Linked DNA regions of Homo sapiens: region 1 is linked to region 2. Evidence: fine-mapped expression QTL. A gene starts in region 2. The other region holds a variant in brackets. All regions are shown on one strand. Distances are from middle to middle. Region 1 overlaps KRT2 (keratin 2). Region 2 holds the start of KRT73 (keratin 73).

Evidence for each region. PIP is the estimated chance that this variant, and not a neighbour inherited with it, causes the effect.
Region 1: its variant is fine-mapped to the expression of KRT73 in whole blood (TOPMed, PIP 0.97).

What each region holds. Positions count from the first base shown.
Region 1 is chr12:52,638,586-52,646,697 of GRCh38, reverse strand. KRT2 (keratin 2) reads left to right here. Exons shown (of 9, transcript NM_000423.3): 8 at 1,129-1,163; 9 at 1,264-2,140. The coding sequence ends at 1,679. Among named protein-coding and RNA genes, the nearest start is that of KRT2, 9.6 kb to the left of the region's middle. The variant T/C (reference allele first, on the strand shown) is at 4,670.
Region 2 is chr12:52,614,511-52,622,757 of GRCh38, reverse strand. KRT73 (keratin 73) reads left to right here and starts at 4,199. Exons shown (of 9, transcript NM_175068.3): 1 at 4,199-4,680; 2 at 6,378-6,592; 3 at 7,419-7,479; 4 at 8,084-8,179. The coding sequence starts at 4,234. It overlaps KRT73-AS1 (KRT73 antisense RNA 1), which reads right to left. Exons shown (of 3, transcript NR_126005.1): 3 at 7,453-8,247.

The DNA of each region.
Region 1 (8,112 bases), 24 kb before region 2:
CTCATCTCTCCCAGAGCCAGGGCTGGAGGCAAAGACAGGGAAAGCAGAGAATGGGGCAGGCCCTCCTGACAACTGAGAACTGACATTCTCTGTGTTCCCCAAGCAGAAACTCAGGACATAAAGCATGATTGGAGAGTTACACATTTATCAACATGAAATGATGCATAAGGCACATTAAATTAAACTAAGCAGTAAGTTAAACATCCTGGTCTTTTCTGAAAGAGAAAACAAAATCATGGGAAAACAGGTTAGTCCTAGACAGTCTGAAACTTTGGTCTCTAGGTCCATAGGGTGAGTGGCTTCTGTGCCCTCCACCGGGTGACCCAGAATGGGGGAGATGATGTCTCGGAATGTGCTGACTGGTGGGGACGTGCTGACCGGAGCAGGTGCCAGCCCCAGTTCTTTGCAGGTTTCTGGAGTGACAAATGGAACCATTTGCTAACTTTCAAAGAGGCACCCTTTGCTTCCTCTGTAGTCTGAGACCTTTGTCCGTATTATCAGCATCTTGGGTGACTTAATCTGGCTGAAGCAATTGGAAGGGGAAAAGCTACCCCAGGCCATCAGCAAGCCAGCATGACAAACAGGGAGTGGCTTTCTTCAGGAGGTTGCTCTGTCCCTGTCTAGAGGCAATGCCTCCTATGCCCAGCTTGTAAGAGGAAGTGGGAAAGTTTTCAGTTGAAGCTGAAGAGGGTGGGAAGAAGAGAGGAATGGGGAGGCTCTACAGAGTCACAGTTCTTTCTGAACTGAATGTTCACAGGCAGCCTCATTGTATAATTTCTGATGTGGCATGGATTCTGAATAACAGACTCTCCAAGATGGATTTAAATACACAAATGGGTTGCAAAGTAGGAAGTGAATTTGCTTTTCAGTGACCTTGGATCAACCACGCAACTGTTCATTTTTTATCAGAGCAAAAATTGAGAGGGATTGACATGCAAGGTTGTGCATAAATGGAAGGGGGTCTGTCGTCATTGTGTGACCTGGCAGCATAGAAGAAAGTGGGGTGTGTAAGCCCTGGTGGCTGCTTAGAGAGGCTAAACTGCACATTTGCGGGTGGAAGTGGTAAAACAACATGCATACAGAACCTAAGTGTTCCACCACAACTTGTTTTTTCTCTCTCCCTTACAGGATGTCTGGAGACCTCAGCAGCAATGTGACTGTGTGTAAGTAATGGGGTGTGGTCCTGTTCCATGGGGTGTTGTGTCAGGTGGAGGCAGGGAGAGGCAGTCATAATCTCTGTGGTAACACCACCTCTCTCTGCAGCTGTGACAAGCAGCACCATTTCATCAAATGTGGCATCCAAGGCTGCCTTTGGAGGTTCTGGAGGTAGAGGGTCCAGTTCCGGAGGAGGATACAGCTCTGGAAGCAGCAGTTATGGCTCTGGAGGCCGACAGTCTGGCTCCAGAGGCGGTAGTGGAGGAGGAGGTTCTATCTCTGGAGGAGGATATGGCTCTGGCGGTGGTTCTGGAGGAAGATACGGATCTGGTGGTGGCTCTAAGGGAGGGTCCATCTCTGGAGGAGGATATGGCTCTGGAGGTGGAAAACACAGCTCTGGAGGTGGCTCTAGAGGAGGCTCCAGCTCTGGAGGAGGATATGGCTCTGGAGGTGGGGGTTCTAGCTCTGTAAAGGGTAGCTCAGGTGAAGCTTTTGGTTCCAGCGTGACCTTCTCTTTTAGATAAAGATGAGCCCCCACCACCACCGACTCTCCCAACCCAGACTCTCCCACTCCAGAATGTAGAAGCCTGTCTCTGTACCTCTAACTGGCAGCAAGTTAAATTTTTGTCATTTATCTCTGATGGCACTTTGAGGGAAAAGAATGTCCACATACAGTTTTTGAAAGATCTTCTCTCCAAACCAGTTAGTTAGAGCCAGTGACGCCTCTGTGTTCTGGGGCGGAATCTGTGCTGTCTAGGTTTGTGCTTCTAGCCATGCCCATTCCCGCCCCCACCATGCCTCTTTGCATTGCCCATTTTCCAGATGTGTATTCTGTTGAGGACCCAGGCCCATCCAGGGATTTCATCTCTAAGCCTGGCAGTGCTGGGGGGAAATGTGTTTCTGTGTATATAGCTCCTCTTGTCCACTCTGCTTTCGGAAGTGCTGTGGTCTGGGGGTCTTCATAATAAACCTCATTTGCAATTCATATCATGTGCTGTCTGCGTGATGTCAAACCTTGGTGGAAGTGGGCAGCCATGGACAAGGGAGGTTTGGGCATTAAGGAGGGGCTCCTGGGTGAGGAGCGTGCCTCCCTGAGGGAAGCCCAGGCGCCAGCCTCTGGATGAATGGGAGCCTGGGGATGGGTGTGTGGTTCTCAGAAAGTATTTACCAGACTTGAGGGCCATGGCATTGCCGGGAGGTGGACAGGTAGATTTGTGGAAGAGTCTCTTTTCTAGAAAAACCCATTCTTCCTGAGCATTTCCCACAGACTGCCCTCTCCCTTTTCCACAAAGGCTTTGGCCCGGGATCACTTCTCCTCAGGGCAAAACCGCTGAGCCCCTGGCACCATCGTGGTGAGTTTCCAAGCTCCGAGCTTCCAAGGCAGACCTTCCTCAGCCTGATGTAGGTCCTGGCCTCTGTCTCTGCGGGGGCTCTGAGCAAGCCTGGAGGAGGATACCTGGGAAGAGTCTGGAGGACTCTAAAGTGGCCTCCAAAACAGCCACTTCTATTTTCACAGGACACCCCTCCTGTCAGCGGAGTCCCACCACACTCAGCAAACAAGCCCTTCTCTCCTCTCTCACCGCAGCCCCCGGGGCCTGTCGCATGGATGTTGCCATCAGGTTGGCCTTCTCCTGTGGGTGTGAAGATGCCTTCAGCCCCTTCCTCAGGAAGGCCATGTCACCTGAGCAGGGCTTCCAGGGAGTTCAGGAATGGTTGGGCAGGTGGGATTGGGCATGCTTGGGGTTGGTGTTAGACAGGCCAGAGTTGCCCAAATGGGAGTTGGTGGCTCAGGCTAGGTCAGCTTAGCTTTCTGTATGTGGCGTTTGGTTATAGTAGCTGTGGCTTAAAGCCACTCAGAACCACTCCTGGAGGGTCCTTTTTTCTCCCACTCCACCCCAGCTTTAAAACCTTGGAGAGTCCTTAGTTGAGTCTGTGACCGTCTTCCTGTTCCCAGAGGTTGCAGGGACGGCTCTAATAGAGAACAGATGCATTCACTTGCCTCCAGACCAGCCAGGACCCAGGTATGAGGGTGCTGCAGGAACAGCTCTGAAGGCTGCAGGTGGCAAGGTGGCAAGACTCCAGGCTGAGCATTCTAAAGTGATCCGCTGATCAGAGAAGGTCCCTGAGAACCACCCAGGCCTCAGTCGTGGGGAGAGGTCTGTGGGGAGAGGGTGCAGGTTGGGAAGAAGTGGTGTGAGGAGCTGGCTGTTTTCGGGTATGTACATAGTGTAGACATGAACACAACCTTTAACAGGGACTTGGTCCCAGACATTTGAGGCTGGACAGGAGCTTTGGTAATCAGTGTATTTGAACTTTTCACTTAGGTGAGGAAAAAGGTAAGGCCCAGGGTGGACACAGAAACCAGGTCTCCCACTCCCAATTTATTCATTTTTTAAAAGGCTTTGGGAATAGCAATCCATTCTAATAACTTTCTGAGGGGAAAAGAGGTGAGGCAGGTAAGGTGGCAGATTTATTCCCAGGGGAGCCTTAATTCTATTTTTTTTTTTTTTGAGATGGAGTCTCACTCTGTTGCCCAGGCTGGAGTGCAGTGGCATGATCTCAGCTCACTGCAAACTCCGCCTCCCGGCTCAAGTGATTCTCATGCCTCAGCCTCCCGAGTAGCTGGGATTACAGACATGCACCACCATGCCTATCTAATTTTTGTATTTTTGGTAGAGACGGCGTTTTACCATGTTGCCCAGGCTGGTCTCGAATTCCTGACCTCAAGTGATCTGCCTGCCTCAGCCTTCCAAAGTGCTGGGATCACAGGCGTGAGCCACTGCACCCGGCCTTAATTCTTGAGACTTTCAGTGGTCTGAACCTCTAGCTCCTTCTATCGTTTCCAGTTCCCCATCCCTTCCCCACCTGAGACACAGCCCTTCTGGTTTCCAGATCATATATATGCTACTTTCTTGCTGGACTCCAGTAGTAAAATTAGCCTTGTACATTAACTCAGAGGGACCCAGGCCTGAGGCGTGACAGAAATCAAGCTCTAAGCAGGTATTGGAGAGAGGGGCTACCTCTGGAGAGGGACCCTCCTTTCCCTCCGAAGTGTAGAGTAGCCCAGAATCTGGGCCACACCCTCCCACCAGGGCCCTCTGCTGCTCCTCCACCAAATTTGGTAATTGACTTGTCAGGTCCTGGGCTTCAAAAAGGAGACAGGCACAGGCAGAAGGGTTTTACGAGCTCGATTTCCATAGGGAACTGGGTTAAACATTTCCGTTCTGATGATGTTGCAGAATATTTGGGACATCCTCCCTCTTGTGGTTCCCTCCCTTTCTCTGCCTGTGAGTTTTAGTATGAATTCAAATAAACCCTTTTTCTCTTCCTCACCAAATTCTTTCTTTCCTGTCATTTGAAAGGAAATTCCTTTGGACATTTCACCTCCTTCAGGACAGCTCACCTCCTCCAGGAAGCCCACCTAAATGGAACACTCCTGCCTCCTTTTCTTGCTGTGAAGTGGGGAAGGAGTGCCCTGGGAGTGAGGAGACTTCAATGCTGATCCTCATCTTTG[T/C]GGGAACTGTTGCGTGACACTGGGCAAGTCCTTTCTCCTCTCTTGGCTCAATTTCTGCCTCACTTTAAGGACTTTCAGTGGCCAAGATTGTTTCTACAGATCCTTCCAGCTCTGATGAAAAGAACCCTGTCTGTGCTACCGGGTCAGCCAGTGCTTACTCCTAAAGCCTTTCAGCCCAACAGGGGATTTGGGACACTGTCAGGATATCCAGAGAGACCCTTTGTGAATAGGTGTGAGCATGTGAAGCTCAAAGTGGTTTTCATTCTAGTTCAGTAAATGCCTGTTGGACAATGACTGTGGGCAAGGTTGTGCATGTGGCTACGTGGGCGTATCAAGACTTATAAGACAGTGCGTCCTGTCAGGGATTTATGGTCTAGTAGGGGAAGAATGAGAAATTTGCAAACAGCTATTAACATAAGGCAGAATGTAGTAGTGTGCATTAATTTCATTAAGCGGCCCTTACTAAAAATACATATTCTTTGTTCCAGCATCCCCTCCTTCTCCCTGAGTTTCCACTACAGAGGAGTCTAGAAATCTGCATTTTTAACAACCTCCTAGGTGATTCTGATGCTGGTGACACAAGGGCCATGGTTTGGAAAGCACTGATGGACATGCTAAGGGAGCGGGCTCTGGGGTGGGCTCAGTTGCTGGCACCTTGGAATTTAGTAGGCACTAAATGAAAAGTTGATGATCAGATAAAAGAATGTGTGACCCTGGGCAAGTTATTTAACAACTCTGAGCCTTTCTTTACTCATTTGTAAACAGGTAGCAACAACAGCTTCCTCAGAGGATTGCTGGAGGTTTACACACTGAAATCAATGATAAATGTTTATTCTGTAGGACCTGTGCCATCATAAGCATGCAGTACTGTAGGTTACATTATTATTATTATTGTAAGTTACAGGCAGTATTTTGGGACCGGAGAAGACCTCATGGATGAGATAACTTTATATCCAGGCACTGGCAGATAGGTGGGATTAATTAAAGAGTAATAACAATTCTGCACGAACTGTTTCAGAAGATGGAAGAAGAAACACCTTCCATCTTGTTTTATAAGGCCAGCATTAATGGAAGAAACTAAAGAACAAATCCCTCATGGATATATATATATATATATATATATATATATATATATATATTCAAAAATTATCAGCAAGATATGAGCAAATTCAATCTAGAAAGATATAAAAAGGATAATACATCATGACCATGTGTTTAAAAATATTGTTTAAAAATAGTGAGGTATATGTTTAAAATGTATCCCAGAAATAAAAAGCTTGCTCAACATTCAAAGAATTAATGTATTCACCATATTGACATAGAAGAAAAAAACATAAGACTGTATCAATAGATACAAAACATTTGACAAAATTCAACACCCTCCATGGTAAAAACAAACAAACAAACAAAAACAACAACAACAACAACAGATTCTTAAACTAGGAGTAGAAGGGAACTTCGTTAGCCTGATAAAGGGCATCTGTAAAAACCCATGGCTAACATACTTAATGGTGAAAGTCAATGCTTTTCCCACAAGCATTTCTTGGGAACAAGCAAGCGTATTTGCTGTCACTACTCCTATTCAGCATCGTACTGGGATTCCTAAATAGTGCAATAATGCAAGAAAAATAAATAAAATCCTACAGATAGGAAGAAAGAAATAAAACTGATTTATTAATATATGATGTGATTGCATATGTAGAAAATCCAAAGGTATCTTATTAGTCAACATATTTCTGTATTGAGAAAATCTTGATTTATACAGATAGATGGGTGTAAATGGTAATGATATTTGTAACTAATTAGACTTGAAATTTCTGATTACTTTCCATTGAAAGATAGATGGCAGGGGAAGCTGTAGTTCAAAGTGCAGAACGCTGAGTTAATCTAATGCATTGTTGAACTCCAGTAAATTAAAATTTACTACAGATCACATTCGAATGTGCATGCTGTTTATTTTAAAGTCAACTTTAATGAGGATTCACTTATAAATAAGAAAATGCATTGTATTACATTTTAAGCATATACCTCAATATTTTTAAACAAATGTATACATCCTTATAACCTCTATCACAATACTTATATAGAAGATTTCCACTACTCCAATGAGTTACCCTATGCCCCCAGCCAACTTTTGATCTCCTTGTCGATACCACTGACTGGTTTTGCCTATTCTAGGATTTCTTAGGGTTGATGTACCTCCTCTCCAACACTGGGCATTGCCAGTCTTTTTCATTCTACAGGGTGTGCATGTTATCTCTTTGTAGTTTTAATGGCATTTTCCTGATGACTTGTGATGTGCAGTGTCTTTTTTTGGTTCTTATTGGGCGTTTGTACATGTTTTAGGAAAGGTCTGTCCAAATCTTGTGAAAGTTTTTATTGGGCAGTTTGACATACATAGTTGCAGGAGTTCTTTATATACTCTGGATAACAGTCATTTGTCAGGTATATGTATTGTCAATATTTTCACTCAGTGTGTGGATTTTCTTGTCATTTTCTTAATGGCATCTTACAAGCAGCAGAATTTTCTAATATTGATTAATTCTAATTTATCAAATTTTCTTTATAGTTTGGACTTTTGGTGTCTTAAGAAATCTTTGCTTACCTAATGGTCACAAACATTTTCTCCTACAATACAAACTTTTATCCTAGAAGTTTTATAATTCTAGTGTTTACATTGTCTATACCCCATTTTAAGTGGCCATTGGGGTATGGTCTAAGGTAAGGGTCCAAGTTCATTTTATTCCCCCAAGTAAATATCCAGTTGTTTGGGCACCAGTTGTTCAAAAGACTATTGTTTACTTGTTGAACTACCTTGGCAACTTTGTCAAATATCAATGGAGACATATGTGTGGGTCTGTTTTTGGATTCTTTATTCTGTTGATTAATGTATCTGTGAAACACTTCTAACATACAGTATTGATATGGTGGCTTGAATCAGTCTTGAAATAAGCTAGTATAATACCTCTGATTTTCTTATTCTTTTAAAAAATTATATGGGATTGAATTTTTGAATTTGAGTATAAAGTTTAGTATCAGCTTGTAAGTTTCTATCAGGAAATACTGCTGGGTTTTAATTGAAATGATGTTGAATCAATAGGTCAGTTTGGGGAGAATTGGCATTTTAAGTATCTTGAGTCTTTCAGTCTATGAACATAGTACCTCTCTCCATTGCTTTAGGTCTTCTTTAATTTTTCTCATCAGTGTGTCACAGTTTTCAGCGTACAGGTCTTACATATGTTTTGTTAAATTTATCTCTAAGTATTTCATGTTTTCATGCTATTACAAGTGGTATTTAAAAATTTTAATTTGTTATTTGCTCCTTGCTCATATATGGAAGCACAGTTTTAAAAACTGGCCTTGTTTCTTGTGAGCATGCTAAATTCATTTGTCACTTCTACTAGTTATTTTGTAGATTCCTTAGGATTCTGTATGTACATAAT
Region 2 (8,247 bases):
CGCAATTCAGTGATGACTTGTTCATCCTCCACTTCCCTTCGCCCTCGTGTGGAAAGAGGAGCTGGGACTGTGGCAGGCAGCAAGGAGCGGAAGGGAGAGAAATGGGATAGAAGGCCTCATTTCTATATATTTATACACAACCCCAGGGAAGGCACAGAGACTTGTACTTGCACTGTTCATGCTGTCACTGCCTCTGGGCCCTCCCAGCACACGTGTGGTCTCTTCACCACTGCCCTCCAGTTCCGTGTCTCCTTCTTCTGCCCCCAGTTGCTGTCTCAGCTGCTCTCCCAGAGTTGGTTATTTTTAGTTTGGGGCAGTAGGCATATATGGGGAGGAGAGGGGGTTCTTCCCAGACTCACATCCCAGATGTTTATTCCATGTCCTCTTCTCCAATAAAACAAGCAAGTTGGGGATGTTTATAAAAAAATAAAAAATAAATAAAACTTTCATTTAGTTCTTCTGGTTTTTAAATTTCTTTGTTGAAACTGTCTAATTTGTCATCTATTTAGCATGTTCTTAGTTGTTCATTTAAGCATGTTTATTGTGGCTGCTTTGAAATCTTTGTCAGATAATTTTAACAACTTTGTCATCTAAGTATTGGCATCTATCAATCGTCTTTTTTTTTCATTCAATTTGAGGACTTCCTTGTTCTTGGCACAATGAGTGATTTTTTAAATAAACATTTGGACATTTTGGTACTATTATGAGATTCTGGATATTGTTTAAATCTTCTGTTTTGGCTGCCTTCTTCTGACATTGTCCTTGCAGGGGAAAGGGTGTGGATGCTACCTTGTTATTGCCAGGTGAGGGTGGAAGTCTGGGCTCCCCACATGGTCTCCACTGGTACCAAGTGGGTCAGGCACTTGTTACCTCCTGGTGGGGATGGAATCCCGGCTTCTTTCTTGGACTTCCCTGATTCCATCTAACTGCTGGGGGAGGGGGCAGTTGGGGCACCTCATTATAGCCTGGTGAGTGTGAAGGTCTAGGCCTCACACTCAGCTTTTGCTGATGTGGGTGTAGGTGAAACCATAGTATTTTCTGTGTGTTGAGATGGAATAGAGTGATTATTCTCTGTAAGTTTTCCATCTTGCTAGGCTGCCCCTTTCCTGATGATGTGGCTACAGAGATCAAGCTTTTGTTTAATCTTTAAAAATCTGAGCCTTTCCAGATTCCTGCCTTCTTCTGCCCCAAGTCTGGAATATAGGAGACAAATAGAAAACCTAGAGAAATAATCATCATGTCTTTCACTGGGTCCTGAGGTCCCTGTTGGTGTGCCTTCTTCTCTACGCTTCAGAGTCTTCTTATGTTTGTGAAGAAGGGAAAAGTATGTCTACTTCATCTTTCTAGTTGTGGAATATCCACATAGGGAATACTGATTTCACAATATTTATTTGATTGCCCCTGGGGGTGACAGAAAGTTGATTTCCTGCCTGTCTCTCTCTCTCTTTCTCTCTCCCCCCCCCCCCCTTTCTTTCTCTCTTTTCTGAAACCATCAGAAACTCTTGCCCTAGTGTCTGGGCAGAGGCTAATGGCAGGACAGCCCCACTGTGGGAAGTGGGGCTGACTTGGTAATTGGGTTCATCTGGCATTGAGTTTCCCCTGGTGAGGGCAATATAAGGGATGTGAAATATAAGGAGCTCACTGTGTGAAAACCCACTTAGAGGCATTTCAATGACAGGTGCTAGGGATACTGTTCTTAGGGAGAATGATTTCAAAGGGCACCTAAGAGTTTTTTAGCCTAGTCCATGACTGCCTGAGAGTCCTTTGCCACTGGAGTTCTGGGAAGTGAGTAGAGAGGACCAAAGGGAGGATAGGACCTGGATCTTGTCCTCAGGAAAATTTCTGGCCGTTAGGAAAGATTGACATACCTCCTGAACACAGGTAGAGACATCAAATTAGAAGAGACAATTGACATAATAGATGCTGTTGTTTGGACAACAAACAACATGTGGGAGGCTGGGAAGAGAGGTGTGATTGGATTAGGAAAGTGATCAGAGAAGGTTTCCGGAAGTGCCTCTGTGGCAGGTTCACAAGATGAGAAGGCCAGGGAGGGGAGGGGAAGTGAAAACCATAAGGAGAGGGGCTGTTTGCTCGTAAGCACATCCACGCCATACTGCAGAGTTGGCATTCACAGCATAAATGCCATTGGGGGTTATCTCAGGGCCTGTGACATGCAGCAATTTGTAGTTTTGCTGAGATGCAGGCCTGAATCACCTCCACCCCAGTGCTGGTGTGCTGAAATGAGCCAATTAGGGAGTGATTCTGGCTGGAATACTAAGCATTCTCATCACAATGCAGTTTTGTTGGTCTTCTTTGTGCCTTACAAAGAAACTTACAAAGGAATAGAAACTTTGGGTCAGGTGCGGTGGCTCACGCCTGTAATCCCAGCACTTCGAGAGACTGAGGCGGGCAGATCACCTGAGGTTGGGAGACCGAGACCAGCCTGACCAATATGGAGAAACCCCATTTCTACTAGAAATACAAAATTAGCCGGGCGTGGTGTTGCATCCCAGCTACTCAGGAGGCTGAGGCAGGAGAATCCCTTGAACCCAGGAAGTGGAGGTTGCGATGAGCCGAGATCATGCTATTGCACTCCAGCCTGGGCAAGAAGAGTGAAACGCCATCTCAAAAAAAAAAAAAAAAAAAAAGAAAAAAAGGAATAGAACTTCATGTTAGCTAAAAAAGATTAAAGGACTTCCAAGTGGCATTGCCTTTAGTGAAATTGAAGACATCAAAGAAAATGATTATTCTTAACTAGAAAACAACCATATTGTATAAAACAGAGGGGAGGTTGAATTTGGCAATTGCTTAGTACAACAATTTTAGAGGCATATCATAACCTCTATACAGAAATAGAAAAGAAGGATGGGCCAACTGTTCATTCAAGTACTCCAGCTAGTGAAATACTTGTGTTTTTATGGAGGAAATTCTATACTATGGATATATTTGGGATTTGGGATTTGGGAAACTCTTGGGTCACATACTTTGGCAATGTCAAGGATCCATGAAATTCAAATGTCTTCCCCTACCTCCCCATCTCCAAAATTGTGAGCTAGGTTTGGTCTTCATAATTCGGGACCCAAGAGCCTAGCACAGTACCTGGGAGAGAGTCAGCCCTCAAGAGAAGTCTGTTAAACGAATGGATAAATGAATGAACAAGTAGATGGCTGGCTGGCTGGTTGGACGGATAGATGGACGAATGAATAAGGCGGGCATAGCTCTGAATGTGGAGTCAGAAGACCAGCCAAGGGAGTCCTCAAGGCTGGGGCCTGTGCTTTTTGGGGGCATTTTCATTCTCTGGGATTCACACAAAGAAAGGACTCACTAAATGTTTGCTAAAGGAATGACATCCTCAATTATCTGAACCTTGGTTTCCCCATTTGTGTAATGTGGATCATCACCATTCCCCTCCATGCAGACTAAGTGGATTAAATGAGCTTCTTGTGTGAGGAGCTCTGTTACACTGTAAAGTGCTGCACCAGTGTCAGCCATCGTGAATGGTGCAATGACCATAATTTCAAGGTCAAGAGTCAGGGTAGTGGGATGGTAAAGGGAAAAAGAAGTCAGTGTGTGCAAAGGAAGGTGAGCAGGGCAGCCCGGCTGGCACAGAGGAGCAGGAGAGCTGCCTGGGAGGGCACAGCAGGGGGCTGGCAGCCAGAGGCTGGTCCTGGATTCCCAGTGTGCTCCTCTCCTATGGCCCTGGCCAGCCATCAAACCTGTCTCCAGGAACTCTGGGAAGCCAGGCAGCAGCAGCCTCTTCTTAACCACATAAAAGCAGCTCAGCCAGGGTCCCTGAAGCAGCCCATCTGATGCTGGCATGGTTGTGAGATTTCTAACAGATGACACTGTCAATTAAAGGTCTCCCCTCTGTACCCCTACAATCCCAGGCCCCACCACTCCCTGGGGAACAGCAATTGAGACTGCGACAAACCTCCCACCTAAGATCTTTCTATGGATAATGTGCCCATGCTAATTACACATGTTCATTAGATAAAACTCAAATTACATGAGCAAGACTTGCAAGACTAGCACTTTGGGAGTTTTCAAGTCATTTACCTGGTGTCTGATTTTGCTGGGAGAAAATGATTTCTTGCTTCCAGGCAAACTGAACCCACAAATTAGGCCCATGGCTCCCTCTTGAGTCCTATAAAGTGGGAGCCCAGGATCACAGGCTGGTGAACTGCATCTCAGCTAAGGGTCAGCATCTTATCCCCACTTTCTGGCCTCCCCACCATGAGCCGCCAATTCACCTACAAGTCGGGAGCTGCTGCCAAGGGGGGCTTCAGCGGCTGCTCCGCTGTGCTCTCAGGGGGCAGCTCATCCTCCTACCGAGCAGGGGGCAAAGGGCTCAGTGGAGGCTTCAGCAGTCGGAGCCTTTACAGCCTGGGGGGTGCCCGGAGCATCTCTTTCAATGTGGCCAGTGGCAGTGGGTGGGCAGGAGGCTATGGATTTGGCCGGGGCCGGGCCAGTGGCTTTGCTGGCAGCATGTTTGGCAGTGTGGCCTTGGGGTCCGTGTGTCCGTCGTTGTGCCCGCCCGGGGGTATCCATCAGGTCACCATCAACAAGAGCCTCCTGGCACCCCTGAACGTGGAGCTGGACCCTGAAATCCAGAAAGTGCGTGCCCAGGAGCGGGAGCAGATCAAGGTGCTGAACAACAAGTTCGCCTCCTTCATTGACAAGGTGGGTCTTTCTGGAGAAAGCTGATCTTGGGCTCCCCTTTTAAGGACTCAGGAGGGAGCCACTGCCCTAATTTGTGGTTCAATTTGCCTGAGAGCAAGAAATCATTTTCTCCCAGCAAAATCAGACACCAGGTAAACAACTTGAAAGCTCCCCAGGTGCTGGGCCCATAAGGCTTGCTCATGCCGTAGAGCCCCTTCCTTCCCCCGCCTTCATTGTCCTTGGGGTGCTCCCTGTCTGAAGCAGACGAAGGCAGGACACCTCCCCAGGATGCAGACATAGCCCAGGGAGGAACTGGACAAAGCCTGGACATCAGAGGCAAGGGACCAGGGTTGGAGGGGTGAGAGGAGCCAGCAGCCTAGCCCAGGAAGGTGTCCAGGAAGCAATGAGAGCGGTCTCTGAGTTGAGAAGTAGCAGAGTGACAGCCTGTGAGACTTAGAAGCTAGGCGAAGGAGATGCCCTTGACAGCCTGGGGCATCTAGACTGCCATGCGACCCAGCTGTTCCTCCTGTGTCCCCTGAAAGCTCAGACTCAGTCCGTAACACACACAGCCTATGAGGCAAGGCAGCTGGAGGTCACGGTGCCCTAGAGCAGTGGTTCTCAAAGGTGGCCCTGGAACCAGCAGCAGCAACGTCACCTGGACGCTTGTTAGAATGCACACTCTCAGGCTCCACCCCAGAGCAACTGAATCAGAGACTCTGCAGCAGGGCCCAGCACCCTGCATTTTAACAAGCTCTCCAGGTGATGCTGATGTACACTCAGGTTTGAGAATCACTGAGGAACAAAGTGGTAGGAAGGTATTGGGAAGCAGAGACTTCCTAAGCTTAGAGGAGCAGGGGAAGCTCACCCGGAGCGACAGTGAGGTAGGGTGGTGAGGCATGAGTAGGAGTTTTCAGATGGAGGTGGGGAAAAGGCAATCTAGGGAGACAGCACGTGCAGCATGGTAGAACTTGTCTGGGGAATGGGAGACCTTCGGTTTACGACATCACTGTATGAGTAAAGAAGGAAGCCAGGAGGGCTGGGCACATTATGAAGAGTGTGATAAGGAATATGGACTTGACCCTGAGGGTGATGTGGAACCACCTGAGGGTTTTAAGCAAGGGAATGATATATTTGTAGGTTGCAACTTGAGAATGCTTGTTCTGCTGCTGGGACAATGCTGTGATTGAGATAGTAGAGATTCAGACATGAAAGCAACTTAGGAGGGCCGGAGACCCCAGATAAGCTGAACATCTGCCTCTGGCTGGGCTGGGAGAGCCCACGCACAAGGAGGGAGAGACTAGGCAGAGCACGGGCCACCAGACCCCGAGCAGAAGGCCTGACAGTGTGAAGGCTAGCACAGGCCAGCTTGTGTCTAAGGGGCTGCCTTGGAGAGGTGGCCTGGACTGAACATGGACATCGGTCCAGGCAGGTTTGGATAAGTGCAGAGGAGACAGGAGATCTAGATCTTGATAGTTTGAGAGGGAAATGAAGACATTGGTGCCCCTCCCAACCTTAAGGGCTGCCTCAGAGTGAGAACTTCAGTCAGATAAAGGACCCTAGGTAAGGAGTGGGGGTGTGAGTGGCATGGGTGGCAGTTTTTAAGGGCTGAGGCTCATTTTTAAAGCTAATGTAGCATAAGAAAACACAGTTCCTGTCCAGGAAGGGAATTCTCACATCCCCTCTCCACATTGCTTAAGTATGTGTGGCATGGGTTCCAGGTGCGGTTCCTGGAGCAGCAGAACCAGGTGCTGGAGACCAAGTGGGAGCTGCTACAGCAGCTGGACCTGAACAACTGCAAGAATAACCTGGAGCCCATCCTTGAGGGCTACATCAGCAACCTGCGGAAGCAGCTGGAGACGCTGTCTGGGGACAGGGTGAGGCTGGACTCGGAGCTGAGGAGCGTGCGCGAAGTGGTGGAGGACTACAAGAAGAGGTGAGCAGGACGCCACTCCAGGCTGGTCTGCCTCCCAGGGTGAGGCTTTCCCAGCAGGCACTGGGATGTTTGCCTCTGGCCTTGGAGGTATTGGGTTCATCTGTCCCAGCAAGATGAGAGCCTTCTATGGGCAACGAGGCAGACTAGACAGTGGACAACCAGCCTCTTGGGCAGCGTCAGGGCTGTCCTGGCAGGTGATCCCCTCCTTGGCATGCTCCTTCCTGCTCCCTGTTCAAGGGAGCCTGTATTGTGTGTGCCGCAGCCTCTTGGCTCCTAAGCTCACCACTGTGCCCCTGAGTTCCAAAGAACCACCCCCCACCCACCCGCTGCTCTCTGCCACAGGGAAGGAGGTGGAGTTCCTGTTGGGCTTCCTCTCTCATTGCCTTTCGGTCCTGGACACGGGCCATGTGCCTTCTTTCTCCCCTGGGAGATAGTTCTGGCTTCCTTGGGACCCCTGCCTAGGGATGGAGGGGAGTTGTTGGTAGGTTGTCAGGCAGCAGGATTGACACAAGAATCATGGCTGAAAGGGGTAGCTGGCATGCTTCTGTGATTCAGATACTGAGTGGGAAGAGGAAGAACCTACTCACTCCCCAGGCATCAGAGGAAATCAGACCTCAAACCACCCAGGCTCAGGAGGAGGTTACTTCATACCCGGCCTCCAACTCTGGCCAAATAGTCCTGGTGTGTTGGGATGGACTTGCAAAGGTATAGAATAATACCTCTTAAAAGGCATATAATATGGGTATCTCTTTTCTCATTTCACTATGAGAACGTATACACACACACACAGACACACACTCTGCTTCCTGTGATGCTTTCCCTGCAGGTATGAAGAAGAAATAAACAAGCGCACAACTGCTGAGAATGAATTTGTGGTGCTTAAGAAGGTGAGGAGGGTGCATGGGTTCCCTTCAGTCCCCCAGCAGTGGGTGCTGGGCTAAGAGAGAGGAGCAGCTGAGGTCTGAGCCCCCCGCAGAAGGGCCTGGAGCCAAAGTGCTGAAGGAGGAGATGAAGGGCTTGCTGCTTGGGACATTTTGGGACACCTGGTGTTGGTTTAGCACACAGTACTTTGTCTGTGGACAGGAACCTAGATGTGGATAGTCAGTCCCAACTCATGTCCCCTCTGGCTGGGGAACAGGACAGGCTTTGGGAGGGGCTGCAGGTTTGCCTTCCAACTCTGCTAGTTTCTGGCAAATCGCCGTGGCTGTCCTTGCCTCCCTCTGTTGGCTGAATGACTGGCTGAGTGGGGTATAGAGTCTCACACCCTTCTCTGAGAAATAGAGGCAGAAGGAGTTCCAGAGGCATGAGAAACTTGCCCCAGGTTTCGCAGTGAGTCTGACAGTGAAGTTGTGGCTGGAAGGCCGGTTCCTGCCCCTTGGATCTGAAGTCCTGGGCAGCTAGCTAGGGCAGGGCCTGCAGGTGTCAGTTCGCTGGAGAGGCCTGTCTGGGCTTGAAGAAAGGTGAGGTCAGGGGTATCTGGATTCTCCATAGGACGTGGACGCAGCTTACACGAGCAAAGTGGAGCTGCAGGCCAAGGTGGATGCCCTGGATGGAGAAATCAAGTTCTTCAAGTGTCTGTACGAGGGGGTAAGGCTCCCCCTGCCCCACCTCTGGCTCTGTCTTCTGGAAGGACAGATATGTGATGAACAGTTTCT